Regions from separate parts of the Homo sapiens genome. Here all the other regions are linked to region 3. Evidence: fine-mapped expression QTL. A gene starts in region 3. Each other region holds a variant in brackets. All regions are shown on one strand. Distances are between the middles of the regions.

The links. PIP is the estimated chance that this variant, and not a neighbour inherited with it, causes the effect.
Region 1: its variant is fine-mapped to the expression of NRN1 in whole blood (INTERVAL, PIP 0.90).
Region 2: its variant is fine-mapped to the expression of NRN1 in tibial artery (GTEx, PIP above 0.99).
Region 4: its variant is fine-mapped to the expression of NRN1 in whole blood (INTERVAL, PIP above 0.99).

The regions. Positions count from the first base shown.
Region 1 is chr6:5,825,427-5,833,532 of GRCh38, reverse strand. It overlaps LOC124901250 (a long non-coding RNA gene), which reads right to left and starts at 6,990. Exons shown (of 2, transcript XR_007059424.1): 1 at 6,928-6,990; 2 at 3,970-6,389. The variant A/G (reference allele first, on the strand shown) is at 3,359.
Region 2 is chr6:6,460,894-6,468,999 of GRCh38, reverse strand. The region is part of intron 3 of LY86-AS1 (LY86 antisense RNA 1); the gene reads left to right. Among named protein-coding and RNA genes, the nearest start is that of LY86, 120 kb to the left of the region's middle. The variant A/G (reference allele first, on the strand shown) is at 4,336.
Region 3 is chr6:6,003,406-6,011,493 of GRCh38, reverse strand. It overlaps NRN1 (neuritin 1), which reads left to right and starts at 4,569. Exons shown (of 3, transcript NM_016588.3): 1 at 4,569-4,799. The coding sequence starts at 4,745. RefSeq lists a silencer at 2,519-2,638 and an enhancer at 7,105-7,929.
Region 4 is chr6:5,982,865-5,990,970 of GRCh38, reverse strand. LOC105374898 (a long non-coding RNA gene) reads right to left here and starts at 85. Exons shown (of 2, transcript XR_926413.4): 1 at 1-85. The variant A/G (reference allele first, on the strand shown) is at 4,683.

The DNA of each region.
Region 1 (8,106 bases), 180 kb after region 3:
CTCCCCTGTGTCTCTCTGGGGTGCCCAGGCCCTGACCACCCCCAACCAAGGCAGGCTCTTCTCTTGCACTCTGTTACCTTGACGAGCTGTCATCTGACCTCCCTCCAAAAAAAATTCATGATAACCTTCTCCCAGAGCTGTTAATAATTATTATTATTATATTTTAATAATTAATATAAGATAATTAATATATAATTATTATATATTAACATAATAATATAATTAAATATTAATATATACTGATATAATAATTATTATTAAAAATCAGAGCAGTGTGAAAGCCCTTTGATGTGAGACAGACATACACCCCTAGCTCTGTTTCATGAGTACTTGTCAGTCTCTGTATATGTGGGTACCATTATCGCCACCACAGTCCCCAGTTTACAGAGGAGGAGCTGACGCCCAGAGAGGCTCCATAACATCCCCTAAAGCCACACAATCTTGGCCCAAGATTTGCTTGGCCCAGGGGCCTGGACGCTTGATCTCACATGGTCTGTCCATGTAGCTTGCAACACTCAGGAAGTCCCTCTCCAGTGAGGGAGCTCTGAACCCTGGCAGTGAGGCCTCTCCAGTGAGGGGGCTCCTGAGCTCTGGCAGTGATGAGCTCTCTGTGACCAGGGGACCCACCTGCAACCTCCCCCCATTCCACAGCTGCCAGCACCTGTGCCCACTTCAAAGCTTAACCCCGGATGATAAGACAGACCAGGAGCCACCAGCTTTATGTACGTTACTTATGAGTCTCAGAACAAACTCACAAAAAAATCTTATTCCCACTTCACAAACAAGAAGTTGAGGATGAGAGAGGTTAACTCAAAGGACAAAGTCACACAGATTTTAAGGCCCCTGCTCTTGACACCAGACTCAGCAGCTTTGATGTTTTTGTTCTCTTCCTCCCTGTTTTTATCTAGGGCTTCTGAGGTGTCCTCCTTCTCCATCTCCTCCCTTCTCCTCCTCCCCCCCCTCCCCCCTCCTCTTCCTCCTCCTCCTTTTTCTTCTTCCTCTTCTTCTTCCTCTTCCTCTTCTTCCTCTCCTTCTCCTTCTCCTCCTCCTCCTCCTCCTTCTCCTTCTCCTGCTCCTCCTCCTTCTCCTTTCTCTTCCTTTTTTTAAATTTAAGAGATGGGGTCCTGCTCTGTCACTCAAGCTGGAGTGCAATGGCATGATCACAGCTCACTGCAGCCTCAACCTCCCAGTCTCAAGCAATCCTCCCACCTCAGCCTCCAGAGTAGCTGCAAATACAGGCACACCTCACCACACCTAGCTAATTTTTAAATTTTTTTGTAGAGACAGGGTCTTTCTGTGTTGTCCAAGCTGGTCTTGAACTCCTGGGTTCAAGTGATCTGCTCCCCGTCAGCCTCCCAAAATGTTGGGATTACAGGAGTGAGCCACCATGTCCGGCAAAGTCACCCTTCTTGAACTTTGATTCACCAAGCTCTTCAGTCCAACTTTACACAAGTGTGAACTCAGAGAGGCGTGTGCTTGTGATTCCTTTATTCACACACAGCCAAGTTGGCACAAGGAGGTGAAACAGAGAAAGGCCTCAGTGTCTTTAGCCAAGCCCCCAGAAGGCCACCTAAGCAGGCTGGATGCTGCCCAGGGCTGGGCCACAGCGTGTCCTTTGCAAGTCAGCCAGCCCAGCCCCCGAACCCCATACACACACAAAGACATCTTGCACCCCAGGAGCAGCCCCACAGTGCAAAGGAGTCCATGCAGCTGCTAATGGCTGCTCGGGTTTGTCTGATCTGTCTGGGGTCAGGCACAGCCTCCAGGGGCCTCTGGCCCAGGTTGCATCTTTCCTGCAGAGCAGAAAAACGAAGCACAGTTAAGAAAACCCCAAGAAGGCAGTCAGTTTCCTCCCTTGAGTTTCCGGGGTGGACTTCCGGCAGAGTTTTTGGAGAACTGACTGTTGCAGTTAAACAATGTGTCTGGCAAGAAGCGAGACTTCCTCCCTTCCTGCTGCCTGGCTCATGGGGCTGCAGCCTCACTTCTGGAGGTGGCAAGAAAGAACTGTGGAGTCTGTGATCTAAGGGATCCCTGGCAGCCCACGGCAGCCAGAGAACCACACCCACTGGAGAACTCTAGGTTCTCTACGGCCTCTTGTTACTGCCAGTGCTTGTGTGGTTTGAGGTGGGTAATGCAGCAGCCTCCTGCAGCCAGCCCAGGACTGGGCAGCATGGGGCCAGGTAGTTAGTGTAGGAGAGCGAGCCTAGGCTTGTAAAGCAAGACTTGGCTCTGTCACTGGGCAACTTTTTTATTTTTTTATTTTTTTTTGAGACAGAGTCTTGCTCTATTGCCCAGGCTGAAGTGCAGTGGCATGCTCAACCCCTTCCTCCCTGGTTCAAGCAATTCTCCTGCCTCAGCCTCCTGAGTAGCTGGGACTATAGGCACGTGCCACCACGCCTGGCTAATTTTTATATTTTTGGTAGAGAGGGGGTTTTGTCATGTTGGCCAGGCTGTTCTCAAACTCCTCCCCTCAAGTAATCTGCCTGCCTTGGCCTCCCAAAGTGCTGGGATTACAGGCATGAGGCACCGCGCCCAGCCTGGGCAACTTTGAAGAAGTTACTTAGCTTCTCTGAGCCTCAGTTTCCTCATCTGTATAACGGAAGCAATAGTGTCCATTTTGCAGGGCTAGTATGACGAGTAAATGAGAATCCTCATGAGGGCCTGGAAATGACAGTGTCATTTCCAGGTGGTTCTACTATTATCAGTGACTGATATTTGTTGAGCACTGACCATAGACTAAGTTTTGTGCTGAGCATTTTATATTTATTGTCCCATTTAGTCCTCCTAAAAATCTAATGAGATATGACTATCCCCAGCTTACAAATAAGAAAACTGAGACTCAAAAAGGCCAGCAAGTGACCCCAGATAACTGCACAAGGATGTGCAGAGAGTGAGCAACAGGACCCGAAGCTGTGGGCTCACACCATGTTCTTCCTGCCTCTTAAGCCCATGGTACAGTTGGTGGGTGCTACCTGAATTGAATGGATGTGCCTGTTGTTTTGAAGTTGGGGTCTATGGCCATACCACCCTGAACGTGCCTGATCTCATCTGAAGTTGAGGATAGGCATCATCTTTCATTTGAAAATGAAGAAACTGAGGCATTGGGACGTTAACTCATGCACAGGCAGCAAGTGGCAGAGAGTGAAAGGAACCAGCATTGATGAGTGCCTATTGTATGCCAAACACTGTGCTTACTTCAAGATCCTATGATCTGCTGGGTGATTTTAGAGATGGAGTTTCATTGACTTCCCACACTGCCCTGAAGAGGTCTTATTAGTATTAGCCCCATTTTACAGAGAAGGGAACTGAAGCTCTATGCATGTAATTAGACTCTGAAGGCTGTTGATGGATGGGGAAG[A/G]AGAGGGTCCCTCTCTGCTTTTAAGGAATGCATGGACAGTTATGATTCTGGCCTGAGAAGGAAACTGAAGGGGCTCTGTGCCCGTCCCACATACCCTGCCCCACCCCCAGGGCCTCATGGGTCCCACCAGGGGAGGCTCCTGGCTTCCCAACAGAGGAAGGCATCACTTCAGAAAGGGCTGTCCCCTCAGGCCTTCTGTAGGTGGCCGGTGGGGGTCTAAGTGTATGTGCCCTTCAATCCCCCTTCTCCATTCCCCTCGTCCTCCCTGTGCTCCTGTAATGCCCGCTGGACCACTGGAGAGCCCCCATAGAGAGCAAACAACAGCAGAGCACACAGCCGGCCTCCCGAGGGTACAGGGCTTGCCTGAACTCTCAGGTCTAGTAAAAGCGAGCTTCCTACAGAAATGCACAGGGGACTGAGATCAGAGTTGAGCGGGCCTGGAAGGATCCCGGGGAACAAACAATGCTGCAGGGAAGATGGAGGCCACCCTCGGCAAGCCATCCTTTCTGGTCCCCGAGGAGCCCTGGGGTGGTCCCTGGTCACTATCTTGAACATGATACTCTAGTCTTTTTGCTCACTTCCAATATCAGTAAAATAAACTTGAGCATGTATTCCACAATGTGAAGGTTTATTGATTTATAAATTCTATAAATGTGCTGCTGAGCTCATAAATGCATCACAACACAGACATAGAAGTTGGTATTTTACTAGGATAAGAGGAAATCATAACTAGAATTTCTGATATCTTCTTCCTACACCCCCAGCATTTTGTGGTGTGCCCCCTTTGGGCCTTGGGAAAGTGATGCAGGGCCTGCAGAGCCTGGTATTGTGCTGGGGCCTGGCTGCAATGGGACACTGCCCTTCCCTGCAAGAGGCCAGCGAGCAAGGCGTTTGGCACAGGCTTTGGGGTCAGACAGAAGTGAGTTCTGATCTCAGCTCTGCCTCTGAGGAGCAGTGTGGCCTGGGCAATGACTTGCCTCCTGGAGCCTCCGTTTCCTCATCACGAAGTGGGGGAGATAATCTTCCTGTGCAGAGGTGATGAGATGATGAGCCCAAAGACACAGCGCGGTGCGTGCCACGGAGGAAGTGGTGTTCGCTCGATAGTCCTGAATCCTCCTGCTTACCAACGAGCTCCCGGTTCCCACCCATGCCAGAGAGGTCAGTAGGTGGCCTGGATGCCTGAAGGTCCGTCCTAAGGTTGAAGTCTAAATAGGGAGAACGGATGACTTGGGAGAAACGTCTCCACAGCTCCTCCTTGGCTCTGGGCACAGCCTTTCTCTTGAGTGGTAAGTCGTACTCCTATGGCTCCAGGTAGAATTCCACAAAAAGAAACATATACGTACACAATTTTTATTTCATCCCTCTTCTGGCATCCTCCCAGTTCTACTCACACATGCTTGTGAGTCCCTTTGGTGACTTAGAAAGCACAGTAGAGCCAGCATAATCATTCTGCAGCGGTAGAATCTATTTTTAACCTGGAATAGCCCCACGGACAGGAGACCTGTACTGTCCCCCATTAAGGGGACTCCCCATCCTATGCCATTTATCAGGACTCACACAGCCCTCATGAGGCCACCAAAAAGACAGGACACCTCCCAAGCCACAGCTGCAGCCCTGAGAGGGAAACGTACAAGCTCCCCACCTGGAGGCAGCCTCTTCCTGAGTGAGCGGCGGGGTGCTCCGCCATCAACTTGTCAGTCATTCATCCGGGGAAGGATGGAGGAAGCCGCTGTTGACCGCTTCGCCCACACCCCAGGGTGGCTCTGAGGCGCTCCTGTGGCCTGGGACAGAATGTTTCTGTGAACAGCAGCCCATGGCCAGGCAAACACAGAACATCTCCCCTGGAAGACCCGCATTCAAAGGGCCACCAGATTAAACTCCCACTTCACACTGAGGGGGAGCTGATAAGCAATGTGGGGGGGGGGGGCGGTGCAGAGAGATTGGGCCTACAGGTGGAGTGCTTCTCTGGGAGGGGCAGCCTGCTCCTCTGGGAACCAAGCCACTGTTCTCTCCAGCACCCTTACCCCAGAGGACTCTGTGTCTGAGCTTTCTGAGCAATTATCAGCTTCCACTGCAGCTGCAGCAGGCACGTTGTTGGAGAGCCCAGCTGGGTTCAAGGACTCTTCCCTGGTGCAAGCCTGGATTCCAAAGACCATGCGTGTGGGGGCTGGGATAGATGCCCTCTAATTAGCCATGCACCCTAGTTATTCCCTTCCACACCTCTTTCCTGCCCTCCCCTCCTTTTCCCCTCAGAAGTGAAGGTGCTCATAGCAGTCATCAATGTGCTTACAGAGCATTTAGCTCAAAGTTGCATAATCTTTAACCTTCCCCAGGCCCCAGCCTGTCGGTCTCCACACCAGCCACTGTGAGGACAGGATGAATTCATTTGCAGAAGACAAGCACAAAACCTCCGATAGAAAATAAATGCAATGTACCATAGTAAATGGGAGCAGCTTAAAAAAAAAAAAGCACAAAATCCATTGGGGACCCTGTTGCCATAGGAACTGGCATTACAGCTTGCTTCCGATAATTAATGGAGGGTTTTGCTATTACAGTATTCTTGAAACTTCGGTTTCCCCTGTGCTGCACTGCAGAATGCAGCATCCTCTCCCCATTCATAAATATTTCATGACTACCGGCTGCTGTGTTTCATCACCGTGGATAGCACTCGGCCTAATCCACCCCTTGCCAAATTCATGTTGTCCTGTCAGAGAGCAACTTCCATTTCTTCCTCTTTCTTCTGCAGTCTTCATTTATCTGGTTTGAAGTTCTTTACCTTCCCAACCCCAGAATGGTGGCTTTCATTGTGGCTTTGTCTTCAGACGCTGGACATCTCTTTCCTGTGCCTGTCTTATTTTCCTAACGGTCCCGTGGGCCTCCCCCAGGGGCATTGGTTGTGCTCCGGCCGTACTGCCTTCTGCACATCTGCTTTAATGGAGTCCTGGGAGGATACTGGGCTTTTGAATTCTGGTGTCTCAACATGCTGGCTGAGCCTCTGTTCCCTCATGGTTAAGTAGAGATGCCACCTGCCCTGCAGGGTTGGAGAGAGAGAGCCAGAAAAGATACAACACGTGTAAAGTACCAGTCCCCCCACGGGTGGGCTCAAATGGTCACAGTGGCTGCTGGTGTTGGTTTGTTCTCTTATATCTCTTGTTTTTGTCTAGATAAAATCCGTAACTTTTTTTAATTGACAAAATTGTATGCATTTGTGTGTACAGCAAGTTTTGATATTTTGACATGTAGAATGGCTGATCCAAGCTAATTAACCGTGCATTACCTCACATACATTTTTTGTGATGAGAATACTTAAAATCTACTCTTAGCAATTTTCTAGTATACAATATATTAATTGTAGTCACCATGTTGTACAATAGATGTCTTGAAATTCTTCCTCCTGTCTAAATGACAATTTTAATCTTTTCATCAACATCTCCCCAAGCCCCCCAACCCCCAACCCCTGGTAACCACCATCCTATTCTTTGTTTCTATGAGTTTGACTTTTTTTAGATTCCCCGTGTAACCGGGATCATGCCGTATTTGGCTTTCAGTGCCTGGCTTATTTCACTTACCTAATGTCCTCTAGGTCCACCCATGTTGCAAAGAACAGGATTTCCTTCTTTTTAGAGGCTGAATAGTATTGCATTGTGTATATACATCATATTTTCTTTTTCCATTCATCCATTGATGGATACTCCCTGTCTTGGCTTCTGTGAAGAATGCTTCAATGAACATGGGAGTGCAGATATCTCTTCAACATACTGATTTCATTTCCTTTGGACATATCCCCAGTAGTGGGATTGCTGGATCATACGGGAGTTCTATTTTTAATTTTTTGAAGAACCTCCACATTATTTTCCATAATGGCTGCACTAACTTACATCCCCGCCAAATGTGCAAGGGTTTGCTTTTCTCCACATCCTTAGCCATCCTAGCAGGTGTGAGGTGCTATCTTATTATGGTTTTAATTTTCATTTCCATGATGATTAATGATGAATATTTTCTCATACACCTATTGGCCATTTGTATGTCTTCTCTTGAGAAATGTCTGTTCAGGTCCTGTGTCCATTTTTTAATTGATTTACAGATGTTCCTTGACTTACGATGGGGCTATGTCCCAATAAACTCACTGTTGGTAGGTAACACTGTAAGTCAAAAGCATTTTTAGGCCAGGCATGGTGGCTCATGCCTGTAATCCCAGCACTTTGGGAGGCTGAGGCAGGCAGATCACTTGAGCTCAGGAGTTCAAGACCAGCCTAGGCAACATAGCGAAATCCCATCTCTACTAAAAATACAAAAATTAGCTGGGCATAGTGGAGCGTGTCTGTGGTCCCAGCTACTCAGGAGGCTGAGGTGGGAGGATTACTTGAGCCCGGGAGGTGGAGGTTGCAGTGAGCCAAGATGGAGCCACTGCACTCCAGCCGGGGTGACAGAGTGAGATCCTGTCTCTAAATAAATAAATATTAAAATTAAAAAGTGTATTTAATGCCCCTAATTTACCCAACATCATAGCTTAGCCTGGCCTACCTTAAGTGTGCTCAGAACTTTCATTAGTCTATAATTGGGCAAAATCATCTAACACAAAGCCTATTTTATAATAATGTGTTGAATAGCTCATGTAATTTATTGAATACTGTACTGAAAGTGAAAAACATAATGGTTGTATGGGTATAGAAGTATGGTTTCTACTGAATGCATGTCACTTTCATATCATCGTAAAGCTGAAAAATTGTAAATGGAAACATCATAAG
Region 2 (8,106 bases), 460 kb before region 3:
GGTATAAAAACGGCATTCATGGTGATAAAACAGGCCCCATCTCCATTGAGGAAAATAAGAGGAGGTGAGGAAGATGAAGCCACAGCACAGAATATTAAGGTTAGATTTAAAGGAAGAACTGTGACTGTTCTTAGGTGTTACAGAATTAGCTCTTTAGGAGAAGGAAATAGGTTGAGTACTTGAATAAGTGCAGTATGTCCATATTGATGCTTGATATGAAGGTTACCTGCAGAGCTACTGCATAAATGACTGTGAAACTTCCTTCATGAGGGTCTTTAAAATGAGATAACTGCTCTGAGGTAAGAGACTGAGGGTAAGATTAACTACCTGCTTGCATTAGTTTCGAGTCCTTAAAAATTGAATATCCACACGTGTTTGTGGGCCCCTGTGGTTTTTTAAACTGTTGTGTTTCATGTCTTTGCTAATCATTTCTAGTTTTAATAGTAAGGATTTCCTCTGTCTTGAATGCCAGGAAACAAGTTATTTCCATCCTGGTATTCATTGGATATTTGTAAGATCTTTATTCTTTTGAGGGGTCAGGCAGAGGATGGGCACCCAAGCGTGAACCTGAGAACTTTGCACGTGGGTTTTTCTGGAGCTCCTCACTGTAACGTGGCATTGTCCCCAAGGCCAGCTCCTCTTCCATGTGATTTTGCTACTCACACATGCAGCAATTACCATGTGGCATTAGCTGACCTTGCCGGGCACAGTGTTATTATTGTCATTATTTTTTCTTTTTTGAGACAGAGTCTTGCTCTGTCGCCCAGGCTGGAGTGCAGTGGCGCGATCTCGGCTCACTGCAAGCTCTGCCTCCCGGGTTCACGCCATTCTTCTGCCTCAGCCTCCCGAGTAGCCGGGGCTACAGGTGCCGGCCACCACACCACACTAATTTTTTGTATTTTTAGTAGAGACGGGGTTTCACCGTGTTTGCCAGGATGGTCTCCATCTCCTGACCTCGTGATCTGCCCTCCTCGGCCTCCCAAAGTGCTGGGATTACAGGCGTGAGCCACCGCGCCCTGCCCGGGCGCAGTGTTATTTGGGGCTGTTGACCTGAAGTAGGTCTGACTGAGATGCTTTGAGTTACAAGCACTGGAAGCAAATTCTGACGTAAGCAGGAAAGATGGTTCCATTTACTCATTTATAAAACAGACTGGGGTCCATGCTTGATAGAGAGAGGGGGAGAAACTTGCAGGCCAGTGAGAAAACTGGGAAAGGGTGGTGCTCCCACAGTTAACAACAAGCACATGGGTGTCAAGTACGAGACTACAGACAAGTGATAGGCAGTGTGAGGCTGGGGATGAATCAGCTCAATAGAGGCAAAGGCAATCAAATGTCAACTACCACCCTGTGAGCCGCGTGGGCAAAGGAGTCCTGATATTAAGGAGGCTAGGAACAAGCTGCTTGGTGTTTTAAGGTGAGGCGGAGAAACGCAGGTGCCTGTGGGCAGGGCCTGGATGACGACATTGCTTGGGTGTCTGAAGTGGGTGATTCATCAGGGAGCCACAGCTGTTTACAGCTGACCCATGTGTTAAATATTCATCGCCCAGAGAAGGGAAATGTGTTCCAGTGCCCCCAAGCAAAGCTGAGGCTTTTCTGTTTGATTAGAAGATAAGTAAAAAAATAAGATGACACATTTTCTCTTTCTCCTAAGTTCCCAGGGACTTTCAGTAAGTTGAGGTTACTTGCAGGGTTTGAATAAGGAAAAAAAAAATCTGTTTATTTGACATCACCTTTTTCAAAGTGTGTGTGTAGGAGGATGTGGAGGTGGGAACAAGGCAGGAGTCATTCATTTCTGATACAAAAGAACTGGGCTAACTTCCCAGAGCGCTGTGGTCTGGCTTGACTCTCTGGTACTTACGTAGAAGCACCTATGGAGGTGATTGAGCCATCTGATGACTGGTCTCAATGGAAGGTCCACAGGGGATGTTATGTTTATTAGTAGATGACAGATGGAATACCATTATAAGTGACCATAAAATATAGTCAAGAGCGGATGGTTGCCGCTCTTGGGGTTGATCTGAGAAATATCGAGGAAAGCCTACATTCTATACCTGAAATATTTGTCACTGATGAACTTTTCCATTTAGACTAATTTTTCAGATGCTTTACAATAATTTTTCAGTGATAGGCTGGGCATGGTGGCTCATGCCTGTAATCACAGCACTTTGGGAGGCTGAGGCCAGAAGATTGTTTGAGCCTAGGAGTTCTAGACCAGTCTGGGCAACATAGTGAGACCTTGTCTCTACAAAAAATAAAAACAAATATACAGCCAGTCACGTTGGCACACGCCTGTAGTCCCAACTACTCAGGTGGACTAAGGGGAGGGTTGATTGAGGCAGGAAGGTTGAGGCTGCAGTGAGCTGTGATCGCACCACTGCACTCCAGAGCCTGGGTGACAGAGTGGGACCCTGTCTAAAATAATAATAGTAATGATAATTAGTCAGTGATGATATATAATATGTATGTATGACTTTGAAGTATATATATATTCCTTTGAGTTAGACATTGTTGTCTCCAAATGATCTAAGAAAGCTTAAGTTACTGGCTTGGAGTCATGTAGATGAGGAATTGCAGAGGTGTTGTTTTTAATGGAGACATTCCTAATTCTAAGTTCTCTTATATTTATCTTACACCCTAGCCAAGAAGAAATTTACAAGAGGCAAGGTAAGGATTCTAAATCAGCAGGTGTCGGAGAGCAAAGTTCCCAAGAAGTAGAGGTGGCAAGACCCAAAGACAGACTTAGCCTCTTTAGCTATTTTTGCCTCCCTCCAAGCTTTGCACAGTGGGCTGGGGACACACCTCTGTGGCCTGGAAGAGGAGGTTTTTGAGGGTTCATCCATTGTACAATTTTATTAAACATCTACTTTGTACCAATCCCTGTTCTCATCACTGAGGACAGATTGAGGAGTAAGACACAAAATTTCTTCCCTCGTAAAGCTTTGGTTTCGGGTAGGGAGGTAAGGGTCACCCAGCCTTATGGCTTAACTTCTTGTGGCTAACTTCGAGCATCAGTGCCTTCTTTACTAAATTGTCAAGACTGAACAGTAAAGTCGTTACAAGGATGGGTTGGAATCCCCACTTTTCCACTCAATTTTCTTTGTGATAAAAGGTGACATAAAAATAACTAATTTGTCAGGAGAATTAAATAGGATAATGTAGGTAATGTGTTCATCACAGTGCCTGACATGCAGCGAGTGCATACCTATTGCTGTCATCATAATCACTTTAATATAGGATGCCAAAACCAGTAGCAGCAGGTTTCCCCCAGCAAATGGAGTTGAATTCAGTTGCCAAATTGTCCAAAACAAAGACCAACAGAGAATACCCTTCCTGGTATGGGATTACTTCAGGCTGCATGGGAGACAGACAGGGCTCTATCACATTCTCACCTCATTAGATGTGGCAGAGGAAGCAAAGTGCTCCAGAGTGACCCTGGAGCTGAGTCCTTGCAATTTTCTGGAAGCTCTTGTTAGAACGCATATGACATGCCCACCAGCATACCGGCTCTTGGAGGTTATGAAGCTGTGAAGTATCTCCTAATTATTTCTTTCAAATAAATGTGACCTATTTCCTTTTTTCCAAGAATACATTAACTATAGTCATCATGTTATACAATAGATCTCTTGAACTCATTCCTCCTGGGTAACTGAAATTTTGTATCCTTCAACCAACATCTCCCCAATCCTAAATATGCCCTATTTCTACTGTGGCAAAGTAAGGAAAATTGTCCGGTGAATGCCTGGAAGATCAATGGCCAGGCAGTGGGTTCACCAGGGTCAAGAGCCCCCTGTTCTCCAGTGGCAGGTCTTGTGCCCAAACTCAGCTTCCCGAGGACTGTGCCCCTTCCCTGCCCATGCAGCAGCTGAATCCAGCATCTTACAAGGTCTCCGGGTACAAATGTGAATGTTCTCTGACAGCTTTGCCTACAGCTGAAACATATAGGCAGATGGCAGGTGCTAACATTTCATCTAATCATTCCTCACAACCAAGGCTGTTTTTGACTCTCAATCTAAGAAGACAGGAAGGCAATGCCCCTTCCCCAGAGCACAGACGTGCAGTGTGTCTGCTCAAATACAGCTCTTCCTGCGATGATGACAGGATGGGTACTATGGTACTATGTGTCTCTTCTTGCCGATCTTGGCATCTAATTCCTCCTTTCACAAAGCCTGTTCTTTCACCTTTATCATACATCCTGGTGGGTATCTGCTTTTGCTCATTACTCTATTACTTCTCACTAGAGAGAATGTGTTCAAATGAGAGTCAAAGTGGCTACTAAAAAACATCTATGTGAACGTGGAATAAGAATCTATTTAAATAAATTCCCCAACATTCTTC[A/G]TTCAGCAGCTCCTGATAACACACGGTTGAAAATAGTTTTCAGATAAATATAGGAAAGTAGTAAATTCAAGTAAAGAATGTAAAACTACTCCAGTCCTACTTTCCAGCTTAAATAAAAGCAGCGTTACCACTTAAGACATACTGTGTTTGCCTGTGCCCATGGTCCCATTGTAAGGAAAGATTCCCTGATTCATATGCTCACTTTTTGCATTGGAGTTATTTTTCCACTCTGAATTGTTGCCAATATTATTTTTCACATGTATATTTTCATTCCTCTCAAATTACTTCATAAGTGTATGTTTGATTTCCTTAGTGTATAAGCATCCCAAGGTCAAGATCTACATCTTATTTATTTTGTATCCCTCCAGAGTAGACATTAAGTAACTGAGTTTTTAAACTGTATTATTATGGTTAGAATAAAGATATCTTCTTTGAAAATGTCCAAACCCAAAGTCCAAAGTATTGGGAAAAAATAAATAAAGCCAAGAATTATGTTTCTTTTTACCCATTCATTCCTAAAGCTAATTTGTTAGAAGTACAAATACAGACATTAATTATTTTGTGGATTTTGGTATCTTTAGAGAGGCAACAAAGTCCATATTTTGTATTGTCTCTTTGTCTGATTTTATGAATCAGTTCTTTGAATTTTGATGGAGGCTGCTAATGCCTCCTCTGTAGCTATTATGATGAGGGCTTCCAATTATACTGTGTTAGTTCGTTCTCACATGGCTAGAAGGAAATACCCAAGACTGGGTAATTTACAAAGGAAAGAGGTGTAATTCACTCACAGTTCTGTATGGCTGGGAAGGCCTCAGGAAACTTAACGATCATGGCAGAAGGTGAAGGGGAGGCAGGCACCTTCTTCACAAGGCGGCAGGAGAGAGAATGACTGCAGGAGGAACTAGCAACACTTATAAAACCATCAGATCTCATGAGAACTCACTCACTATCATGAGAACAGCATGGGGGAAACCGCCCCTTGATTCAATTACCTCCACCTGGTCTGTCCCTTGACAGGTGGGGATTGCAATTTAAGATGAGATTTTGGGTGGGGACACAGCCAAATCATATCCTATACTTTCTCATCCTACTGCGTTTTTAATTAGGGACAGATTTAAATTAGAGATAGGTATTAGTGAGAACAGGAAGTAGTTATTCATCTCTTCTCAAGTTTGTGTGAGCACAAGTGGGGGAAACATCCCTGATCTTTGGCTAGTGTCCACTAGCCTTTCAAAGTATGTTTGAAACTCTCTTAGATTTTATTTTGGCTGAGAGGACAGGCTTACCAAATGTTTTCACATGGTAATACCTCCAAATAAAACAGAAAGCCACCACTAAATAAACACATAGCTTCAGAAACAGGACTATACCACGAAGCACTGAGCCAGCATGGATTTTTAAATGCACGTTATGGCTATACGGACACAATGAACCTATTAAAACTTAAGGTGTTTAAATGAGATTTTGGAATCAAATAATACTCTGTCAATAATCCAAGGATTTTTATCCCCCTTAAAGAAGTCTGATTTAATGGGAAAAAATTTCTAAACTTATGTTTCTTTTAAAGTGAATGCAGGTTTATTAAGAAAATAAAGGAATTAAAGAATGTCTGCTCCATAGGCACAGCAGCAGCTTGGGCTGCTAGACTAAGAATACTTATGGTTATTTCTTGATTATATGCTAAACAAGGGATGGATTATTCATGAATTTTCCGGGAAAGGGGTGGGCAATTCCCAGAACTGAGGGTCCCTCCCCTTTTTAGACCATATAGGGTAACTTCCTGATGTTGCCATGGCATTTGTAAACTCTCATGGCACTGGTGGGAGTGTCTTTTAGCATGCCAATGCATTATAATTAGCATATAACGAGCAGTGGGGATAACCAGAGGTCACTTTTGTTGCCATCTTGATTTTGGTGGGTTTTGGCTGGCTTCTTTACTGCAACCTGCCAAATTAATTTTGATTGCCTTTCTTGCCTCAAGTAGTTTTTGGTATCTGCACTGTCTTTATGCAGAAACATGGGCATTTCAAGGTGAGCGACGGCTGAGAGAGCAGGAGAGCAAGAAGGAGTAGGAGAAAGATTGCAAAGAAAGGAAGGAGGAAAGGGAAAGAGGAAAGACAGCAATTGGAAAAAGCGGTTTGAAGAATACACGAATACAGAGGAGGATGGGAGAGAAAGACTAGTCTGGGCAAATTTCTCTAAAACTACAGGAACTGGGCAATTACATCGAAAATATCTGAGACGAGTAGCCCAGGAACTCTTTGTTAGAAAGATGAGCGCAGATTGCCTGTGCTTTTCTGAGCAGAGGTCATACTCCCTTCTAAGCAGCCCCTATGTGGATTTTCTAGGCAATGGCCTCCCCTATAGCAGATGCTGGCGCTGCTCCACAGGTATCCCTTTGGTTCTTCTGCCATATTCTTGTACAACTTTCACTCCTGACAGCCAGCGTGGCTGAGTCGCCTTGTCTGAGGACCGCCACTGTTCTCAGCCTGTAATAACACCTTCAACTTGGCTTCCTCTGCACACTCTGAAAGCTGGAAGTGTCTAGGAACATACATCCCCATCCCATTCCCCATGGTAGTCCTTGATGGTGGGTGACTGATGGATACAATGTTATCATTATTCCAGCTCTCTTGTTCCTTCATCTCTGAGGTGTGGTTGCTGTGTCTCTACAGCATCCTCTGCAGGACTGAGCTCCCTTCCCTTCCTTTCTCCACTTCCCTCTACTGGTTTCCTAAATCCACTTCCTAATAAAGCTTATGAAACCCCATCTCAGGGATCTCGGATCTTAATCTAAGACATAAGTCAATTAACCTAAATGCCCAGATTATTCCAACGGCCATTGAGATGTTTCCTTGATCCTCAGGAGTGACCCAGCAGTGTGGAGGATTTACTCCACGTGCAGGTCTACACTTGTAATTACAGACTACATTCCTGAAAGATAGTCTCCCTCTGCCCACACTTTTCCCTTCTAGCACTCGGCTTCTTTGCCATATGTGTCCTGGGTCATATGGGCACCTGTCTTGAGCCACATCCTTGGAGACCTCTGCCCTCACAGTCTCCTTGCCCCTCCCAGGCTCTGCATGGTTGCTGGAGCTCAGCTCCATCCGCAAGTCTGACGGGCATTTTTCTCCAGAGCTGGGTGTGCTTGGGAATTGGCTGGATTTTAACACCCATCCCTTTAACCACTGTCTGCTGGCATCGCCTCTGCTGGGATGGGTTGGAGCCCACAGGAGCAAAAGGCAGACATCTTCACTCACAGCCTTGTGGTTTGAATACACATTTATCACCCAAACCAAGACAGGTGTTAGAACTGGAGTCGGGGGGAGCGGGTCGGTACTAAAATAGCACCTGGGTTTTTATAATTTTGAGGGAGGCAGCTGAGGTGGTGTTTTCTGTCCCTGTGATTCTATAACAGGAACTCTCTGAAGTTCCTGTGGCTCACCATCTTCAGTGAATCAGTTCTCAGGAATCTAGTTTAGAGGGGGCCATTTTTAAATCCTAAAATACTATTAAAAATGTGTCTGGATCTACTCATTTCTTAATCCCAAAATACTATTAAAAATGTGTCTGGATCTACTCATTTATTCTCCCACTTACATAAAAAGAGGGTGGATAATCACTCCCCTTTTCAAAGTTAGAAAATGAAAGTGGTGATGACAATTTGTCCTTAATAAGGTTGTTCTGTATGAATCCAAGCTGGGAAAAGCTCTCTGCTGGTGGGTCCGTGGAACAGACAGATGCATCCCATCAGGAAGCCAATTTGGAGGC
Region 3 (8,088 bases):
CAGGTATGATGTCTTGTCACTCTAAAAACTTTAGTATATGTTGCTCCAAACAAGGACAATTTTTTCTATAATCAGCATACAATTCCCCAATCAGGAAATCAACATTGGTGCAAAACTAATGCCTAATTCACAGACTTCACTGAAATTTTACTGGCTGTTCCAACAACATCTCTGTCTTTTCTTGTCTAGAATCTTATCCAGGAATACAGGTTGCATTTAGTTGTCATGCCTCTTCCAGTTGTTTCAGTGTGAGTGGGGACCACATAGGCATTCCCTTTGTCATAAGTCAATGAATTGTGCATGCTTGTTTTGTGCATTGTTCCGTGTGTATATTTCATGATAAAAACGTTGATTTGTTTTAAATAAAGTGTTTATTTTTAAGATGGAAGTTAATCACACTTCTACATTTCAAATTTAGCATTTGCTCCTAGATTTCAAATTACTGCATTCAAATCAAGTTCAATTTTTAAATTTTTTTTTTTTTTTTTTTTTTTGAGACAGAGTATTGCTGTGTTCCTCAGGCTGGAGTGCAATGGCATGACCTCAGCTCACTGCAACCTCTGCCTCCAGGGTTCAAGTGATTCTCCCGTCTCAGCCTCCCAAGTAGCTGGGATTACAGGCGCCTACCACCATGCCCGGCTAATTTTTGTATTTTTTGTAGAGATGTTGACCAGTCTGGTCTTGAACTCCTTACCTCAGGTGATCCTCCTGCCTCGGCCTCCCAAAGTGCTGGGATTACAGGTGTGAGCCACCGCGCCCGGCCAGCAAGGCCTTGAAGTTTCAACTAATTTTGTAAAGAGTCTCAAGATCAGAGAGTGAAAAAAATCACCTTACCAAGCCACAGATGCAAGGGTAGACCCAGGCCTCCCGAAGTAGATTTTTACTGGGGCCTCTACCAATGTATATACCTCCACAAAAATCTCCTTCCTCTCGTAATCTATATGATTGTTTAAATACAGTATAGTTATCATTTTAATGAAAAGTTATGTAATATAAATTCACATTTTTATTAAAGGTTTTAGCTGAAGATATTTAAATGACTGACTAAATTTATGAGAGAGATGTATTGCTAGACCAATCTATTCTAATAGAGCAGCGATTTTTTCTGACCTAGAATACAAAGATGGGATTTCCTAGTGGCCTTGACAACTGCTCTTGCAAATAATTTCAAAGGGTTGTTTGTCGAGGTGGCAGCTTCTGGAAAGCCGACCTATGATGGATTCATAGCAGGAGCTGGGGAATCAACTGGCATACTGCTCATCCAGACTAGGGCTGTAGCGCCATGAAACGAGAAAGGAAGTTGGTGCCCACCAGGCTTAAAATTAGACATAGTCTCTTTCTGGCCGTTCTAGGGATAAGGAATTTTGCATATTTATTACCTTAATTATGCAGACTTACTTTTGGGAGTTACTTTGGCTCAATTCAACATGCAGACCCAAACAGCACCTGTGACTTTTTCCCTCTCCTGAACTGTATTTGTTTCTTTAAACAAAATTGCTTATCAAAAAGAAATACGTTCTTTGCAAGAAGTTGGCTTATAAAAAGCACTCTTGCACGGATTTTATTCTTCGGATTGTGCGTTTCCACTCCTAATCCCATTCACAGAATTCTAGAAAATCCTCAGTTCACAAAATTTCAAAGGTGAAAACAGCTTTGGAAATTACTTCATAGTCCACTCTCCTTCATTTTCCAAAGTGTGGGGGTCAGCCTGTGAGCTGGGTTTCCCTGCCCCTGTTCACTGCTCTTCCCACTGCATCTTCAACCCCAAGTATGATGTGAGATGAGCTTTTCACATTAATAAAAGAGGGAACGTTCTCCAAAGCCACCTCCAACCATGGATGCTACCGTTCCCAGACAGCATGCATTGACAACCATGAAATGCAATATCCTTTAATTAAAGAACTACGAAGAATCAACCCTGCATGGAGCCTGGACTGCAGAACGACCTGTAATTTAAAAGATGAGAATTTTTCAAAAAATAAAATGTCATGTGCATCTATCTACCCAGAAAATCATTTATGTAGAGTACCAACTCTGTTTGCCTCTCTCTTCTTCACTTTTAAAAAGACTCAGGCCTATGAGGGAGGTTGGGACGCCTGGGGAGGAAAATGAAGAGAGGAAAAAGTCAGCGGGGGTTCCCTCCCGGGGTAGGGCGGTGAGGCGCAGCCACGTCCCAAGGGCAAGAACCGGATCGGCCCGGGGCGCGGCGCGGGCGGCTGTGCGCACGCGCGTGGGTTCACCCGCTTCATTGAGGCCCTCAGCCCTGCCTACTCCACATCCCCAGCGCCCCACGCTCAGAGTTACAGGGGAGGGGTTGGAGAGGATCCCAGAAAATGATGCTGTGAAGATCCCAGGTGGATAAGCAGGAGGAAGGCAAGGACGTTGAGGGCAAAAAACCTTAAGCCACTCCCAAGCCTGGGCTCTGCACGAGTCTGAGCGAGGTTGGGGGCCCGCAGCTGGTGGCCTGGTCCGGGAAAGCTGGGCCGGCCCCACGCGGAACCCCGAGCGAGGGGCGGAGCCGTGGGCCGGGCCGCGTGGCAACCCCCCTGAGGCCCCGCCCCTCGGAAAGCCTCCCGCCCTGCCATTGGAAGACGTCGGGGGAGGGTCCGAGAAACGCCCCCCTCTCGCCACCAGCCCCCGCCCCACCCCTTGTCCGCCCACGTTTTCGGTTCTTCCCGGAGCCTCCGAGCTCGGGGAAAGGAAACACCCGGGGCCGCCACCGTGCCCCTGGACACCGGAAGGCGAGCCCCCAACCGCCCCGCCCGCAGGCCGGTGACATAACCAGGGGCGGGGAGACATGACTCCGCCCCCAGGGCCAGGAAGGCTGCATGGGAGTCTGAGGCTCCCGCGGGACGTGAGTTAGGGGCCGCACATTGCAGACACCTCACGTCACCAAGTGCTGCAGTAGGACCCCCGCAGCTTCCCCTCGGCCCCCTACCCTCCACAGCCTGTCCTACCCCCGTTATTTTGCACCTTTCTCCCCCTTTGTCTATGCATCTCCAAATATCTGAGTATGGGGACGGCAAGATTGGCCCTAGAGGGCAAGCTGCCTGTAGAAGCAAATTCAACGCTTCTCCTTAATCCGTGTGCATTTCTACAGTTTGACAGCTTGACGTCCTCTAGTGTAGTTTGGCAAAATTTGGGGGGTCGTTTTCATTTTTTTCTCTCCACAGGCTTAAGGATTAAAGCTGGCCAATGCCTTCTTTAGCATTTTATTAAAGACGCTACAATTTAGACTTTTTTTTTTTCTGTTTGGTGCAGAAGAAAGGAAGAAAACCAGAGCTTAAAGGCGTTTAGAAAGGAAATAGCCCTGTTAGTTTTTCGGTTTTGACTCAAGCTGTCGTCGATAGCAGCTTGCACCTAGCACAAAGCCAGCTGCAGAAGTATTTTGTTGCAGGGTAGGCTACACCTACACAGGGTCTGTGCCTGAGCATCAAAAGACAGTGCAGGTGTGTGTGGGTCCGGGTGTGCGTGTGCGTACGTGATGTACGTGTGTGCGTGTGGGTACGTGTGTGTGTAGCCCAACAAATAAGCCCAAGAGGCGCATCAAGATTAGAAAGAAGTCCGCACACCAGCGCTTGCCTTGGAAATTTCCTAAAGCGCTGAGAGTTGGTTGGTAAATCACTAGTATCCGAAAACTGTCTTATCAGAGGCTCCTTCCCCGGTGCCCTACTCGCCCCCTAAAACAGGTGTCGCTGTGTCCCTTGAAGCGGCCTTTGGCCCGCTGGGGCATCGCAGGTGGGTAAAATTCAGAGGACATTCGGTGTTTATTTCTGGGGCCCCACGTGTGCAAACCAAACCCCCGGGGCCTGGGCGTGTGCGCGCGCTCGCGTGCCTTGTGTGCGGGCGGGCATGGGGGCGCTCGGCGCGGCTGGCGGGCGTGCGCGCGCGCGTTTGTGTGTGTGTGTGTGTGTGTGTGTGTGTGTGCTCGTGCGGGGGGCCGGGCTGCGTGCTCACGCGCTCCAGGCTGCGCCCAGAGCTCAGCTGCTGGGTTGGAGAAAAAGAGGGTAGGCAAGCGCAGGGGGCGGGCGGCCGAGGAGCGCTTTCGAATTAATCGAGCTAGCTTAGCTGTTTTTCCCTCTCCCGCTCCTTTAAACCCCCCTGCATCGTAGAGAGCGGGCTGGATTCTCTGTGGTGCTGATGGAGGAGGGGGAGCAGGTTGAAACAATCGAGTGGGCGCGCCAGGACTCCCCAGCTCCTGGCGGGGAAGGGAGGGGGAGCCCCTGTTCTGCGCAGGGAGGCGGCGGGGCTGGGGGGCCCCCGGAACGAGGAAGAGGCAGGGGTGACCGCTAGAATAGGAAAGTGCTCACCCCCGGGAGGCAAAATTTCGTTCAGATCGCACATTAATTGGAGATATCTGATTAATTCCAGCTTCTGATGACTATAAATGGCGATTCTCTACCAAGGTGTCTATATTAAAAAAAAAATCATTCCGTGTCATCCCCCACGTCAGGCCTGCTCGTGGGCGTGAGGCTGTACTTCCTCCGCCCCCTTCTAATGGAGTGAACCATTCCCAGCTCTCCCCCCCCCCTCAGCCTCTCTCTCTCTCTCTCTTTCTCTCTCTCTCTCTCTTTCTGTCTCTTCCTCGCTCCCTCTCTTTCTCTCCTCCCTCTGCCTTCCCAGTGCATAAAGTCTCTGTCGCTCCCGGAACTTGTTGGCAATGCCTATTTTTTGGCTTTCCCCCGCGTTCTCTAAACTAACTATTTAAAGGTCTGCGGTCGCAAATGGTTTGACTAAACGTAGGATGGGACTTAAGTTGAACGGCAGATATATTTCACTGATCCTCGCGGTGCAAATAGGTAAGTGGCCGCTCAGCCCGGCTGGAGGCTGGAGGCGGGAGGCAGCCTGCCCCGGCCCGAGGCGCGGAGGGGGACTAGCGGGTCCGCGGCCGCCCCAGGGTGCGGAGAAGCCGGCAATCCCCCGAGGGTGGGGGCATCAGTTCCTGGGGACTAGCGCGTCCCAGATCGGTTTTTCCTAAAGCTATAGATTCCAAATGTTCGCCAGGAAATGTGTGCGGCCGGACATTTTCTGGACACGGTTTTTTTCCCCCTTTTTCCTGAGCACACATCCATTTTTGTTTCCCTTTCTGGGTTTATACCAGGTTTGGTGCGCTCTGGGGCAATGTACTGGCCCCTGCGATACTGCAAGATATGATTTTGAAGAGTCGAAATGTGAATGCAGGAATAAAATGGCTAGGCAGCCAGGACTGGAAAGTTTATGTGCTGAAAGCAAAGATATTCCAGGGCTCAGACTGCTGCATTTAGAACTTTGTCATTCTCCCGCCCCTCCTCCCCCCTATATCCTAGCTGCAGCGTTTGCACGGGCACCGCAGACCCGGCTGGTGGGCAAATCGAGAGTGATAGGGAACTTCAGACCACATATTTTAACATGCTTACCATTGAAGAGGATGAATTCAGCCAAATTTACGTAGATATACTTTTCTAGATGCATTTGCCTGCTACTTTACACATTGGTGTCTGCATTTTATATATAGGAAAGGGTTAAGAAGTGTTTGGAATATGTCATGTCGGGTGTTTGTTATTTTTGTTTGTTTGGGATTGGTTATGGAAGGAATTATTTAGTCCCCATTTTATGTTAAGGAATGTTGAGTTGTAGTTACGCTGTCAGGGGTCTTTTTAAAGTTCACATTTTTACCATCCAGAATGAAGAAAAGATATAGAAGAGGGCACTAGAAAACCCCCTTCTCCGACACTGGGTCAGAACATTAATTAACGTGGCCTAAAAGTGAAAGTGAAGCAGGTTATTAATAGAATGGACAACACGGGGGAAAAAAGAAACTCCTGAAACGGAATTGTTACCTCCTATCAGTTCAGGCTGTGGCATTCTTTGCAGACAAATCCTTGCAGTATTGGGGGAGGGGGTGCTTTAGGTAATTGGTTTGGGGCAAGAAAGGAGAATGCATAATATGTTTTTTCCATAAGAAATGTGAAGGAAACAAGGTTTGGAGTTCTCTAGACCTTAAAATGGATTCTTTGCAGTGGGGTTTTATGCAACTGACATGATTTTGAGATTTTATAATGCAGAAACATTATAAAGATTTTAGAGTGTGTGAGTGCAGGATATTGGTGTTTTCCTTTAGTTCCAAAAAATGACAATGCTTTAAATCTGGTTGTTTTGAATCTTTGACATTAGTGAAAAGAGCTGCTGTAAATAATATTTCTAATGGCAGCAAATTCCTTAAATGTTGGAAATAAGTGAATGTGGCATTTTGCAATAAACCTTTGAATTTTTAGAGAGCAGGAGAGAGAGTTGTTTTTGAGATAGAAATTTTAATCGGACAAGATTTGGGACTCTGTTTTCCCGGTAGGAAATAACCTTACTTTGAGAGGTTTGGAGGGAAAAAAAAGACGGTGGTCGTGCCTGAGGGACGCGTTTTGAACACATTAACCTCGGTCCAAAAATGACTATTTGTTGACTGTGGAATTGAAATTGAACGTATTTGTTCCCTAATGTCTGCCCTTTCCTGCAACAGAACCTCGGTCTTTATTAATTCACGGCTGGGAGCTGTCCCAAATCATTGACATTTGGCAAGAAAAGTGGGGGTTGGGAGGGGCGGGGAGGTAGAAGAGTGTGGTGAACACGAAAGAAGACGCAGCAGGAGGAAGTTCGGAATGAATGAGAGGTCGAACGAATGAATGAACGGATGGAAACCGCACAAGAAGGGGACGGCAGAGAGGACAGGGAAGGAGCCAGGGTCACCCGCTAGAGTCTCGCCTAAGCGGGGTTCAGGAAGGACAGCGAGGGACCCACGGGCTGCGACCTGCTGGGACGCGTGCGCCTGCAAAATCCGTCCCGCGCGCAGCCTCCCGGCCTCCCAGAGAAGGCTAGAGTCCAAGGAGTCACAGTTTTAAAAGACAGAAATGTTCACGACTTATTTTACACAGCACACACTCACACATGCGCGGTGTGCAGGGTCTTCTCCAGCAGCGCCTGGGAAGATAACGTGACAAGAGCGCTCCCGCCCCCGGCGAGCCCCAATTCCCCTTAAAAAATGTCAATGCATTTTAGGGGCTTCTTTCGCCACTGAGTTTTGGGGGTGTAGGCAAGGGGTGGGGAGAGACGTGGACGGGGAGATTGGACTTTATTTTATTTCGTTTCTTCTCTGCAAAGCTGTATTTGTGACATGCGTTATAGAGGAAGATGTGTGGAGTGTATTTCCATTTTGAACGAGCTCTATCAGAACAAAGATTCGTTTATTCTTAAGATTTTACGTCAGTGTTCGATTTGTTAGTATTGTAGTCGCAAGGGTATTTAATGTTCGCTGTAAGGTGAACTCGGAGGTTTGAGAAGGTTTACGTATCTGCCCCAGCGGAGGTCGAAGTTAACCTCGGTCCCTTCCCCAGTGCTTCCCGTTCCGGATTAAAAAGCGCAAGGCCCGCCTCGCTCTTCCTGCAGCAATTTGCAAACGGGTACGCTCTCGGAAGCTGCTACGGGTTCGGTCACCTTCCTCTTCGGCGTCTGGCCCGGCGCTCGCGGACAGGCGCCCGCGTTGGGGGCCGGGGGATTGAGGTGTCCGGTCCTCCCGGGACACATTCACACACAAGCGCAGCCGCCAGAAAGCTGCCGAGGACCAGGCCGGCGCCCAGGGTCGTGGGCGCCAGTGCGGATTTCGATTCTGAGATTCACCCTTTCTTCCCCGCCCTAACGCTGTGCTTCTCTGGCGCCCTCCCGGCGCCCGGGCTGCTTTGGGCCGCTAGGCACTCAGCTTCCAGCCGGGTTCGTCGGCCTCAGGGCGGAAAGAGATGGCCACAGCCGCGCGCCCGCAGCCTGGTACCTGTCCTTCCAGTCCCGCGCCTCGGGGTTTGGCCGTCCAGAGGCCGGGGGCTTGGGGGCTTGGGGCTTGGACCTTCGTGCGGCCTGTGTTTCCTCCTCCTCCTCCTCCTCCCGCCGCTCAGCTTTTATCCCTGCCTGCTCTCTGCAGGGAGTCCTGAGCTGGGGCCAGGAGCCCCGGGCCGCGGCGAGCTCACTTTCAGCAGCAGGGCTGGCACCTGGAGAAGAACAGCCTCTCCCCGCTGCCGTCCGGAGTGTAGGCGGGCTTTTTGGCGGGCGGGTGGGTTGTTAAGGGTG
Region 4 (8,106 bases), 21 kb after region 3:
AGAAACACAGGAAGACACCAAACCAGACAAACCTCAGGCAGCCACTGCCTTTCACATCGAGAGACACTCCTTAAAATAGTCCAAGTCCCTAGTAAAGAGGAGAAGGGAGAAAAGGACATGTTTGTCCATCCTTGATTTGTTAATCAAGTCACAAATTGCTTTGTTTACATTAAGACACCACCATGGGAGTCTCTTCTTGATTAAGAAAGAAGCAACACCAAACAAGCAAGCTTGTGGGGATGCCAGGCTGGATAATTAACTTCAGCGCGCCTTCCTGACCCGGTTGCCACAGACTGCAGTGCCTGGGCCTGCCTCAATCTTTCCATTTCCTGGGAGGGTCAGCTGAGCTTCAGCAAGTGACTATAAAAAATGGCTTTCATAGTCCTCAAAGTCCTCTGCTTGTCTCCTCAGGGTGTCACCTGAAACAAGTTGGATTGCGCTCTCACTGAGGCAGGGAGAGAAATCCCAAGCAAAGTGGGTCATTTAACTCTGGCCAAACACAAATTCTTCAAAACAGGCAACTTTGAAGGGGATAAGGAACATCAAAGCACATGGGAGGCACATCCATCAATCCCTGTCCAGAGACATGATGGTCCAGCCATGTGGCAGCCAGGTCTCCCAGAGGCTTGTATACTCTCAGCCGGCCTGGCAGTCATGTTGGTATCACGCACACCTTCCACCTGTTGCACTGCACCCTTTGTGCAGCGTGTTTTCCTGTGTAACCATTCTTCTCCCATCCTCTTGTAATATTTTCTGCTCTTTGGAACATAACATGGGGAAAACTGCATTTCCTCACTTGCTTTGTTTATTGGGGTTGTGGTATATTGTTTCCTATTTCTGAATAGCCCTTGGACACTTTTGTAGATGGCAGAGAAAAATGCCTCCAATTCTGCCCAAATCTTTATCTTCAGGAGTCACTATAAATTCAAATCCAAAATGTGCTCATGTGTACACATTTATACAGATGTTCATATATTCTCTAATTTAGATATTTTCTGGGACACAGATACATACACACACACACATACACACTGCATTTGCAAACCTGACCTTATTCCTTCTGATTGGCTCTTGGACCTCATCTTTTATCTTTTCCATTGGTTTTGACATTTTGTGTTTCATTCTCCACATGCTCCTTCCCCTGAGCTTACAAACACACTCAAATCTCTTATAGCCTAAAAAAAAAAAAAAGGCCTTCCCTGTCCATCCTTTTACTGCACGCAGCTGTTTCTCCATTTCTCAGCCATTTCACAAATACATGATTGTAAGTTCCTAGAACAGTGCCCAGCCCAAGGCAAACACTCAGCAGATATTGGGAGACTATATGAATGAAATCCTCTCCTTCCCCTTTTTGCCAGCTTCCTCCTGGCTGGCCTCCAGCCTGTGGCCTCCAGAGCCAGGTTCCTCCTTACCAATGGCAGACACTCCACTCTCATTGGCCTCCTCCTTTTCCCCCATGTGTATCTTACCCTTTAAACACTATTTTATGTATTCTATTTTTAAATTTTCACCACATGTCCACATTCACTATGGGAAAATTAGAAACTGCAGGTGACTCAAAGGGGAAAAATGTAAAATAGTCATAATTTCTTCAACCAGAGACACACATTTTGGTCTCAGTGTCTCTGGTATTAATTCTCCCATTTCCACATGGGTGTGAAAATGTCGTTTCCCTCCTTTAAGAACCTTCATTTCCTTCCCATTGCTGAATCATTGCTGAGTGACTCTGACTCCCTGCGTGACACCGAAGATTCACCAGGATCTGGTCCCATCTCATCTTGCCAGCCTTCTCCCCAACCACAGCCCTCTATGTTTCCCACGCACGTGCTACAGCCGTACTGACTTCCTTCTTGCTCCTTCAACCTATGCAACCCCTCCTCTATTCGATGCCTTTGCTTATTTAGTTCTTCCAGGCTAAAATGTATTGCACTTCCACCCCAGCGCCTCCCATCCACCCTTGCATGTCCTATTCCTTCAAGATCCTTCTCAGGCTCAACCTTGCATGAACACTTCCCTGATCCCCTGGTCAGAATTATTGGGATGGCCCTCAATAACCTCTTGTTGTTCTTAATTTTGTATCCCAATTAGAGAACTGCTGATCCGTTTTGTCTTTAAACCATACGTTCCTTGAGGTCAGGGACTATGTCTCACCCATCTTTGAACCTCCCACAGTATCTGGCACTGTGCCTGGCACAGATGATTATTGAGTAAAGAACATTTCCAGTCCTTACCACCTCACACATATGTAGTTGCATGTTCTAACTTTAAAATAAATAAAGGTGTTGCTAATGCCAACACTTCTCTGGGCTACTTCTTGCTAATGCCTTTTCTCCCTCAGAAACTCCTCCTAGGCAGCATGCGTGTGTATTCCTGGTGAGTAGAGGCATAAAATTGTTGGCTGCATGTCATGGAGTACCTACCAATGGTTAGAAACAAAGGAACAGACACATCCATGGCAATGCAGATAAGAGAGAATGAAAAAATGGTGGCTAAAACAAAAGGGAAAGAGAAAAGAAGCAACTGAATACATCCTGTTTATGCCTTTCAGAACAACTAGCTCAACATTTCATTAGCTTGTTATATTTTTTCACGGGCTACAGGGAAACCTGAAGGACTCATGGTCCTTCTTTCATTCCTTCTTTCTCATTCAAGGAACTCTTGAAATCTATAACTTTCCTGGCCCCTTGTTTGAAGAGGAGAGTTTTCCATGTCTCATCTTCACTCAGACTACGCGCTTATCATCTAATGCATACACAGTGACTATGCACATGGGATCCGGCCTCCAAAAGGGCCTCCAGTGAACTTGACTCCTGGTATATGTGCCTGTGTGTAGTCACTTTGCACAGTGAATCAGGGCTGGCTTTGTGTAACCAATAGAATATGAATAAATTAATGAAATTTGACTCCCAAGGATAAGTCATAAAAGGTATTGCAGTTTCCTCCTTAGTCCCTTGGATTACTTTATTTGGGGGACGCCAGCTGCCATGCCATGAGGCACTTAAGCAGCCTTGTGGAGAAGCCCACATAGAAAGGAACTGAGACCTCCTGCCAACAGCCAGCACTGACTTGCCAGCCTCAAGAGTGAGCCATTTTGAAAAGTAGATCCTCCAACCCCAGTCAAAACTTTAGACGGCTGCAGCCCCAGCTGATATCTAACTGTAATTTCATGGAGACTCCGAGCCAAGACCATCCAACCAAGCTGTTCTGAAATTATTTACCCACGGAAACCATGAGAAATAATAAATGATTGCTGTCTAAGCCACTGTCTAAGGATAATCTGTTATGTAGCAACAGATAACTAATAAAGTGTATCTGGCATATTCTTTCATTTTAATCTGTAATGTTTGTTCACTTGTCCCTGTGTGTTCGTGTGAGTTTTGATAGGTTTTGTTTGTAAGTTTTTTGTTGTTGTTGTCGTTTTTCGAGACAGAGTCTTGCTCTGTCACCCAGGCTGCAGTGCAGTGGCATGATCTCAGCTCACTGCAACCTCCATCTCCTGGGTTTAAGCGATTCTCCCATCTCAGCTTCCCAAGTAGCTGGGGCTATAGATGTGCGCCACCACACTGAGATCATTTTTAATTGTTTTTGTAGAGACAGGGGTCTGCCTATGTTGCACAGGCTGGTCTCGAACTCCTGGTCTCAAGTGATCCTCCTGCCTCGGCCTCCCAAAGGGCTGGGATTACAGGTGTGAGCCACACCATACCCAGCCTTTAAGATTTTTTAAAACAAGGATTTTAGAGATTTAAGTCATTTTGTATAGCAAATAGCAAAATTCTTTGAGCATCTAAAGTCTTTAAACAATGATTCCTGTCAACCAGGAAGCGGTTTCAGAAAACAGCAGTAAGTATACAAACAGGAGAAGAGTCATAAAGAGAAGTCATGTTACTCAAAGATGAGCAGGGAAACACTGCAGTGATTAGGTCTGAAAGAGTAAATGGGAAAATGGCAACCACAACCGGGCCATTATGACACTATGCTGCCCTTTGCATAGCTGGAGACACCCCCAGAAGCTGAAGGGAAAAACCTTGTTTCAACTTTCCTCCCACCTTCCAATCTTCTGCCAGAGCCTCCCATTGGCAAAAGCTAACAAGAAGCAGTAGGCAAAGGAGTCTGGAAAGTGTAGTTTTCAGGCTTCCTGCCCTGGCAATGGAGAAAAGATATATTAATAGATAGGGCAACCATGGAGCTGAGCCAAAAACACACTCCTTATCACCGGGAACAATAACAGACATAAAGGGGAAAAAAATGTATGTGTTTGAAGGGGCTCTACTCAAAAATGAAGTAGCCAACCTGAGAGATTAGAGAAAGAGGAATTCAGATGCTCCCACATTCATCTTCCGAGATGTATCCCAGGAGCCGGCCAAAAGACTGGGAACCCACTATAGGTATAGACCTCTAAATTCTTCAAATGAGCTGCCACAATAAAGCCCTTTTCAGTAATTGCAGTAGAGCACCCCTATTAAGAAGAGCTAACACATTGGACACATGATGGGTCAGGTGCTGTTCTAACTGCTTTTCACTTAACTAATTTAGCTCATCAACATCTTCATGATGTTGGCCCTATTGTGATCCATTTTACAGGCGAGCAAGCTCAGTCCTAGAGAAGTTAAGTCACAGAGATGGTGTCAGAGTCAGGTCCCAATATGATAGCCTGGCTTCAGAGGCCGTGTGTTTACCATTCC[A/G]TTATCCTGCCTCTCACTTGCTGAACCTATGCCCAAAGTTTATTAGAAGAGATGAACAACACAAAAAGGAACTAGAGAACAGGCACTGTAGAAACCCAACTCCTGAGCTACAGGGCCAACCTTAGACTCAGCTTGTCCAAATGTTGACTGACAGACAACCCATTAATTCCTTTAGAAAAACCATGGTTTATTGAATATCTGGTGCTCTTTTTCTGAAATTCTGGAAGACCCTTCTAACTCTGGAAATATCCTCTGCAAACCAAGTGTGGAGGAGGGTTAGCAACCAGTACTCAAGAAGGACTTATGCATGTGAGAGCCATGTGCTTGGGCAGTAATGAGAGTCCATGCAGAACACTAAAATTAGGGTGCAGTTTCCTGCTACCCTATACTCAGGCTGAACACATGGAGCTGATCATTTCAACAAGCTTGCCTAGCTTTTCCTTTTGATGGAGAAACACAGTGGGAAAAGATTGGTTCTTCAGAAATTTCATTCCAGTGTCTTTGACAACTTCATTTTTTTCGTTTTTGGGGGATTTATCTTGTTTTTTAAACAGCAGGTGATTTGCACCATTTTGAAATAATCAGTGCCTTTCTCATCATAGCTTGAGAGAGACTAGGTTAAAGAACTAGAGAGAGGAGCCCAGAGGGTATGGAATGCATCATGCAGTAGCACCAGACTCTTCTATCAATTACCACGTTTTCTGAAGGTGGTGTTTCATTCTTGGAAGTTTCCAAGTTGGGCCTGCCTGTTAGGTTTTAAAAGGAGCAGAAGGATAATAGTGGTGCAAACGGCTTTACAAATATTTTTGATGGCAGATCTGCAATATCTAGGTCTCACTGAGTCAAATACCAGAAGCACTGATGCTTCTTGCCCACCCTTTCCAGTGGAGGGAGGAAGGGCCCTGCTCCACTTCGACCAGAGCAGTCAGCAGCCTCTTCAGGACGTTGCTGGGTGCTGGGTTGCATTGTACAAGGCTACCCAAAGTGGGTCCAATTCCTGTCCTCTTGGAGGGGCATCTGAAGCAGAGAACATTGACATGGGAACATAAAGAATGACATAGCTGTAATTATGTAAGCTTAATATAAGACACTGGTTTTCATGTAGTTTATGAAAATAATGTTCATTGTTTTATAGTCATCCCAACTACAGACTTGCATAATAAACCAATCAGCATTCCCTTTGCTATATTTTCCCTTGTTCATAGCCACAGGAGAAAAATTGGGATCCCCTAAGTAAAAATAAAAAAGACCTATTATTTTGATGACCATGGTCTCTGCGTGGTTGTGGATGAAGGGGTGAAGAAAAAGAAATTATTACACAATAGCCTTTCTCAAAATGAATGGCTTGTTTTAAACAATGTGTTTTTCTTGGCAAGTTCAGAGCTACTACAAAACAACCATCACTGCTGAAACCTTGCAGAACCAGCAGGAGCGAGTTATCTTCTCTTGCTCAAGGGACACGCCAACTGTGAACTCTTCCCTCCTCACCTCCTGGCAGGGAGATGGGTAATTCCAAAGCTCATATATACCCCAAAGTAGCCTTTTTAGGTTTTGTCCCTCTCCCTTTGGGTCTTTTATAACACAGCTGTCTACATGAAGAGAAGAAAGTCAGCACCAAGCTGATGGACTCTAAGTGATCACAGATACAAAGAGACAGTGGTTTCTGAGTAGGTGCAATGTTATGAAACAGGGTGAAAACTATCAAGCACAGGTGGGTGTCTGCTACTGAGAGGGACTGCAAAGAGCCGAGACAGCCCATCAGGGTAAGGATCATTTGCTCTTTCTATAATGTGTCTCTCCCTACTTGATCCAAGGCCTGCCTTTTTCTCTTACCCCACTGTTTACCTGCTGTTTCTCTGCCTTGCATGCCCCACGCTCATTTAGCCTTCATGCCTTTGAACTCATTATTTCCTCTGCCTCTCCCCAGAGTCTTTGTGTGGAAGGCTCCTTCCTGTCATTTTGTTTCAACCTCAATGCCACCTCTTCGGAGATACCTTCTCTGACCTTTCATTGTAAAGTGATAGCCACCTTCTCCCGGAAATCCTCCCAGCAAACAGGCACTATCACATTGCCTGATTTTGTTTCATTTACAGCATTTGACACTTGCACAACTAAAAAAAAATTGCTTTATAACATTGCTTCATACTCTAAGTTTCGATTCCCTGGGCAAAGCTGGGCCCTAGGCCTTGGGCAGACAGTCTTCTGTGCAGTTTTCTGTCTCCTAAAGGTCTTGAGTGGTCACCTCCAGCCTCTCCCCTGCTCCCCTCTGCCTTTGCATCACTACAGTTCCACATCCAGATTTTATCTTCACCACTCAGCTCACATCTTGGTCTCTTTCTTTTGAAGGTGGAGTCTTGCTCTGTGGCCCAGGCTGGAGTGCAGTGGCTCGATCTCAGCTCACCACAACCTCCGCCTCCTGGGTTCAAGCGATTCTCCTGCCTCAGCCTCCCAAGCAGCTGGGATTACAGGCATGTGCCACTATGCCCAGCTAATTTTGTATTTTTAGTAGAGAGGGGGTTTCTCCATGTTGATCAGGCTGGTCTCAAACTCCCAGCTTCAGGTGATCCACCCCCCTCAACTTTCCAAAATGCTGGAATTGCTGGTGTGAGCCACCGTGCTCAGCCAACATCTTGGTCTCTTTTGCTCTTAACAGTAAGCAGGCCTCGATATAGGACCAAGAAGCAAGTGCTGGGCACCTCCAGAGGATCCCATGTGGCTGCCCTCAATCATCCAGAAGAGCAGAAAGTAAGCTGATACAAACCACGTTCTTCATGGCCTGCGATGGGGCACATGAACCCATGACTGCATGAGTAAATGTCGCCGCAGGGCTCTGTGTGGAGTGTGACTGGGGGGGTGTGGATCCTTAGCAAAATGAATCAAGAGGCAAACTTTGCCTGTGATGGCAACACCACTCAGGTCCCCCACTTCTCCTGTCTTTGGGGTTGACTTGCTCCAGTTGGAAAGCAGCTTCCCTGAAGCTGCTTTTCCTGCCCTTTCTCCCCCAGGAAGCTGACGGGAGGAGGAAAATGAAGTATCTGATGCAGGGCTAAGGTTAGACAGAAAACATAAGAACAAGGAGGAAAAGAAGCCCTCTGAGACTCTTGGGTGAGGACATTGAGGGACAGAATATATATTTCTAGGGTCCCTAGTTGGCATTCGGAACATTTTTCCCCATACACCAGTGTTTCTTAACCAGAGGTAATTGTGTTCCACAGGAGACATTTCGTAATGCCTGGAGACAGTTTTGCTTGTTACATCTGAGAAGGGGGTGCCACTGGCATCCCTGAGTAGAGGCCAGGCATGTTGCCGCGCATCCTACAATGCACAGGACAGCCCTTGCCACAAATAATTGTCTGTCCCAAAATGTCAGTAGTGCCAAGGTTGAGAAACTATATCATAGAACAATGATGTATTTGGTAATTTT